Regions from separate parts of the Homo sapiens genome. Here region 2 is linked to region 1. Evidence: fine-mapped expression QTL. A gene starts in region 1. The other region holds a variant in brackets. All regions are shown on one strand. Distances are between the middles of the regions.

Region 1 (2,904 bases):
AAAGATGACATTTGAACTGATCTTTAAAAGGAGTAGGATTTCACCTAGTTAAAACATGTCTGGAGGGGGAGAGGAGGGGGAGAGGAGGTGAAAAGGAGGGCATTTCACTCAGAGGGCAGAAGCCAAGGCACAAGAAAATGAGAAAAGGAAGTGGCTAGAGATGATGGAAAGATGCGTTGGGGCCAGATGGTAAAAGTGCTAGTTTTTATTTTAAAATTCCCCACCTAGATTTCGAACTTCTTAAGAGCCAGGACCAGTCATATTCCCCACTTATGCTCCATCTGTATATCCCCCAAATAGACACCCACAAGTATCTGTTGATAGAGATGAATCCCTACGTCATCTCTGTGATGTCACTGTATCTGGGAGGCTGGGCGTTGGTTTCAGACATACCTGGGCCCCAATTCTGGCTCTTTACTAGCTGTGTAACTTCAGTGTCCTCCTCTGTAAAACACAGCTACCTACCTGCTCGGTTTGGGGGGAGATGAAACGAGGGATTGTGCACGGCAGGCCTTCTACAAATGGTAACTCTAATTAAAGGGCTCTAGGATGCGGCCACGAACCATTTAATTTGCTTATATCGCGCGCATCCATTCAACCCCCACTGTGTCTAAAAAGAGAGCCGAGGGGAGGAGGATCCTCGCACTTGCCAAGAAGACGGTCATCCGTCGGCGCTGCACGCGGGCCTAGGCTGGACACAAGAGGCTCCCCAGCAGAAAGGGTCTTTCGGCAAAAGAAAAAAGGGGCTCTGTCCCCCGGCGCCGGGAATCCCCTCCTCTGGCACTGAGCTCCACTCGCGCCCGGCGTCCGGATTCCGTTGTAAACAGCTGTTCAGGCCAGCGAGGGAGTGGCAGGGCCGGGAGTAGGGGAGGACGCGGGCGCGCCGAGAGGACAGCCTCGAGGGGTGAGCTCCACCCGCCCGCGGACCCCGCCTCTTCCTCGCCTGCCCCCGACATCCCGGGATGGGATCCGACGGGAAGAGGCGAAGAGATGCCTGCGACTTGGACCGCGCGCCTCCCGGACGGGCCCCGCCAGCCTCCGCCCCAGCTCCCGCTCTCACCTGCCACGGAGTCGGCGTTCTCCCTCCTGCCGCTCCCGCCGCGAATCAGGCGCGGGCTGGCGCCGCGGCGGAAGCCGGAGGGATGCGCGGCAGGCAGGGGCGGTTCAGCCTCTGCCCCTCCGAGGCCGCATCCCTCGCCACGCGGCGGGCGGTCCTCCCAGCCCGACTCGGGTGGGCAGCGGTCAGAGCGGCCGCTTCTCAGCATCAGGAAGGAGGAGACTGCTCTTGGCCGGGAGGCGCCAGCCCAATATAGGGCAGCGCCATGTCTTCGTACGGAAAGGCGGGAGGGTCTTTCCCCTGCTTGCCGAAGGGGTTCAGTAAGCGGTGACTCGCAGCTGGGCGGCGCCGTGTTTCCTCAGGGAGAGGTGGAAAACATGGCCGATGACCGCTCAGGGGGCTCCGTGGCCAGTGGCTCCCAGCCAAGAGTCGCCCGCCGCACGCAGTGAGGCGCCATGTTTTCGTACGGAAACGCGAGAGGCATGGCCGAGTGCCCGCCGATGAGTCTCAGCTGGCGGTGGCTCGAAGCTGGGGATGGCCCGCCCCTAGGCGCCATGTTTCCATACGGAAAGACGGAACGCGCGCCGCATCCCAGCCGCTGGTGCGGGTGACGCGAGGAGAAAGGGAGGCGGAGAAGGCGCGGGTCAGTCAAAAGAAGGAATAAGAAGCCATTGCATCTGAAACCTTCCCCGCCCGTTCTTTGAAATTTAATTTTGCCATCCTGTTTGTAGCTACACAAAGTTTATTCCCCTTCTCTCATTTCCTCAGCTTTAAAAAAAAGTTAGTCCGGGCGCAGCAGCTCACGCCTGTAATCCCAGCACTTTGAGAGGCCGAGGCGGGCGGATCACGAGGTCAAGAGATCGAGACCATCCTGGCCAACATGGTGAAACCTCGTCTTTACTAAAAATACGAAAATTAGCTGGGTGTGGTGGCGCGCGCCTGTAGTCCCAGCTACTCGGGAGGCTGAGGCAGGAGAATCGCTTGAATCTGGGAGGCGGAGGTTGCAGTGAGGCGAGATCGCGCCACTGCACTGCGGCCTGGAGACAGACCGAGACTCTGTCTCAAAAACAAACAAACAAAAAAAAACTACAAAAAAGCAGATGGGGTGACATTGGTGCTTTCAAACACTGCTTCTAAATAGATCACATGTGGGTAGTTATTGCTAACGTATTGAAGGCCGAGTGCAATACCAGACCCTCAAACCATTTACTAACTTGCACATTAAAGTCTTTGCTTTAAAAAAAAAAAAAAAAAGACAAAAACAGAAGTTCTCTGGTGAAGATTCACTTTTTGGAGGAAAAAACACCAAAAACCCTTAAGATACTCAACTAAATGGAACTGTTAAGATCTACAAAGAATGGCTGGGCGCGGTGGCTCACACCTGTAATCCTAGCTCTTTGGGAGGTCGGAGGTGGGTGGATCACAAGGTCAGGAGTTCGAGACCAGCCTGGCCAATATGGTGAAACCTCGTTTCTACTAAAAATACAAAAAAATTAGCCGGGCATGGTGGCATATGCCTGTAATCCCAGCTACTTGGGAGGCTGAGGCAGGAGAATTGCTTGAATCCGGGAAGCAGAGGTTGCAGTGAGCCGGGATCGCACCACTGCACTGCAGCCTGGGTGACAGAGTGAGATTCCGTCTGAAAAAAAAAAAAAAGATCTGCAAAGAAAACATGCAGTTCTTCTGAGTCTAAACTCGTACCATTAAGTCTCTAGTGTTTTTCAGCCCTGACTACAAATACAACTTGGAATCTCAGGGGCAGGGGTTGGAAAAGTATCATCCAAAACTCCGGGGAGGGTGATGCCAGACAAGTTTTAAAAGCTCCCTGGGGAAGCAGGCTAGAACCT
Region 2 (2,904 bases), 28 kb before region 1:
GCTCTTTTCGTAACAGCTCCTATTTACTGAGCACTTACTATGTGCTGCCAGGCACTACGGAAAGCGCTTCACCTTCTCATCCCAGGGAGTTCCTGCAGCGACCTTGTAAGGTTGCTGCCCTTATTCCTGCTTTAGAGATGAGGAAACTCGAGTGTCAAGTTACACGCCCAAGCTGCCCTGGGACACTGCTTGTGAACCCAGGAGAGTGATTCCAAGGTTGCAGCCCTTAGAACAATGATGGCTGCCTGGTCCTGTGCCCATCTGTTGGGTGGCCCTGGTCTCTCTGTGGTGCTTCATTACACCATCTCCTCACCCATCAGCACCTTAACTCCAGCTGAGCCCTCAGGTTTCTTCAGATGGACTCGTGCTCCAGCCCCTCAGAGGGCACATCCCTGCTGCCTGCCTTCCCCAAACGTACCCATGATCCTGCGAATGGGGTCATCGGGACTGGCCACGGCCTGGATCTGGCCCTTGAGCACGGTCTCCTTGTCCGTGGTGAAGGGAGAGGACCCACACAGGGAGAGGCAGCTGCTCACCTCCAGGCACACCTTCTCCCCGATGGTAGTGAGGACGTCCTTCAGATGGAAGGAGCTGGGGCAGAGGAGGGGAGAAAGGGCCTATAAGTAAAATACACCTCTAACCAGCTCCAACCGCCCACACCCGGGTGAGAATGACGGCACCAATAACTGGATTTGTGTGTTCAAGGGACAATTTGAGACTCTTTTCCCTGCCACCTTACCTCTCAGGCTGTGCATACCTGACCAGGGGGACTTTCTTTCTCTCCCTCTGCTAGAAAGGACAGTGGGAAGGGCAGGGGCTCAGAGTATACCAGGACCAACGACCCAAAGCACAACTTCCTGCTAGCCTCTGTGTGATAAAATCAGCCTGGAATGACCTCAGAATATCTTGATATACCTCTGGAGGAATACACAAGAAAGCAGGCATTTGGTAGCTGTGGGACAAGAGGGAGAGAGAAACTCTTCATTGGATGCCCTTTTGTACCTTTTGATTTTTGAAACATACACATGTATTAACTAATTTTAAAAGAATAAAGAGGCCGGGCTCAGTGGCTCACGCCTATAATCCCAGAACTTTGGGAGGCCAAGGCAGATGGATCAGGAGTTCTAGGTCAGGAGTTCAAGACCAGCCTGGCCAACATGGTGAAACCCCATCTCTACTAAAAATACAAAAAGATTAGCTGGGCATGGTGATAGGTGCCTGTAATCCCAGCTACTCAGGAGACTGTGGTAGGA[G/C]AATCACTTGAATCCAGGAAGTGGACGCCGAGATCACGTCATTGCACTCCAGCCTGGGCAACAAGAGTGAAACTCCATCACAAAAAAATAAAAAAATATATAAAAATTAAAAAATTTTTAAAAAATAAAAGAATAACGAAAAGTGAAATCCTAAAGTTAAAAAAAAAGAGTACCTGGATACCCTGGGTCCCCCAGGCTCTCCCAGGGTGCCTGTGGGGAGCCCCCATGCTGGCAGGCATGCTGTGAGAAGGTAACTGCCTCTGTTGTGGGTCTAGATCCTTTGTATGTAGAATTACTGGGGGGCATGGGAGCAAGCCCTGGCACTCACCATTGGCACCAGCTCTGTGCCCACCCCTGGAGGACCAGGGAGGATATGGGAGTGCAAGGCTGGGCTCCCAAGAAAGCACTGACCTGGATCCCACCCTCAGCGGGAGCTTTGACAGAGTAGTTCTCCAGGCAGGGGACCTAGGTGACAGCCCAGAGCTGTACCTGTGCAAAGGCCTCAGGCTAGGCCCTCAGCTGAGCAAACAAGTTTCCTGGCCTCTCAGCAAACTAGTTTGACTGTCAAAACTGTTGAGGCCCTAGTCACAACTTACGGACACGCCCCACACTGCACTGAACACAGCCATGCTTTGTGAAAATTCAGCAGTAAAATTCCTCCATTTTGTAAGGATGAGAATGTTTAGGGGGTACTTCCCTTGAAGAAGTCTCTGAATTGGACCTTGTTAGATAGAGCATTTACTTAGAACCACTCAAAGATATTCTATAGGCTGGAAACCATAGAAGTCACCCAACATGACTCCATGGTAGGAGCGGTCACTGAAGCCTGCACGCGTGCAGATGCGGACTCGTGCTGGGTAAGAAAATGATGCATTACACTGAGCACAGAACGCCTACAGGGAACAAGCAAGGGCAGAACACTTCAACCACATACATGCAGCTCTGCAGGAATATAGCTGGTTTCTCTCATGACCTTCCTCTAGGGCTCTGCTTTTCACTGTTAGTCGGTTATGAAAGCAATTCAGTGGGTAGCAACCAATTTTTTTTTTTAATGGAATAAGAATAGAGTAGAAACAATCAGGCTGCATTAAACACAGTTAGGGTCAGTTCCAGTTTGAGAAGTTTTCGTTTCTGTTACACGTGTGTTAAGTGTGTACTAGGTCACAATGGAAAATGAATTTCTTACTGCAGGTCCTAGTCACAAACATTTTTGTCCCAATTAATGTCTCTGGGTTCCAGTTTCTTCATAAGCTCCAGTAAGAGTTTAATACATTTGAATGGCTTTGGGAGAGGAATAAAGCACTCAACAAACAAACACAAGAACCTTGGAGGTCAGGAGACAAAGACAACCCCATTAAAGAAGGAAGGGGTCAGACAGCATCCTGCTCCCTGCGTAGGGAGAACAAATGAGTTGATGGCACTCAACACCGAGCCAGGCCCCGGGAGGAGCATGCTAACAGGGAATGGAGGGCCGCGGGACCTCTAAGCCCGGGATCTCCAATTCCTCAAGGCAAGCAACCATTGGTACCAGCGCTCCCCACCCTGCTCATGGCTTACCCCCCAGCCCGAGCCACTTCTTCTCTCGCCTCCTAAATGCTCCCTCACATCTACTATGTGCCCCATGCCAAAATTTAAACTTAAGGGCATAAAT

What was found. PIP is the estimated chance that this variant, and not a neighbour inherited with it, causes the effect. A credible set is the group of variants that fine-mapping cannot tell apart.
Region 2: its variant is the best candidate, but not a certain one, in a credible set for the expression of TCP11L1 in visceral fat (GTEx, PIP 0.57).

The regions. Positions count from the first base shown.
Region 1 is chr11:33,037,949-33,040,852 of GRCh38, reverse strand. TCP11L1 (t-complex 11 like 1) reads right to left here and starts at 1,281. Exons shown (of 10, transcript NM_018393.4): 1 at 1,061-1,281. RefSeq lists enhancers at 461-780, 1,261-1,610, 1,331-1,878 and a silencer at 881-1,280.
Region 2 is chr11:33,066,374-33,069,277 of GRCh38, reverse strand. It overlaps TCP11L1 (t-complex 11 like 1), which reads right to left. Exons shown (of 10, transcript NM_018393.4): 9 at 419-591. Among named protein-coding and RNA genes, the nearest start is that of LINC00294, 8.3 kb to the left of the region's middle. RefSeq lists an enhancer at 526-1,027. The variant G/C (reference allele first, on the strand shown) is at 1,254.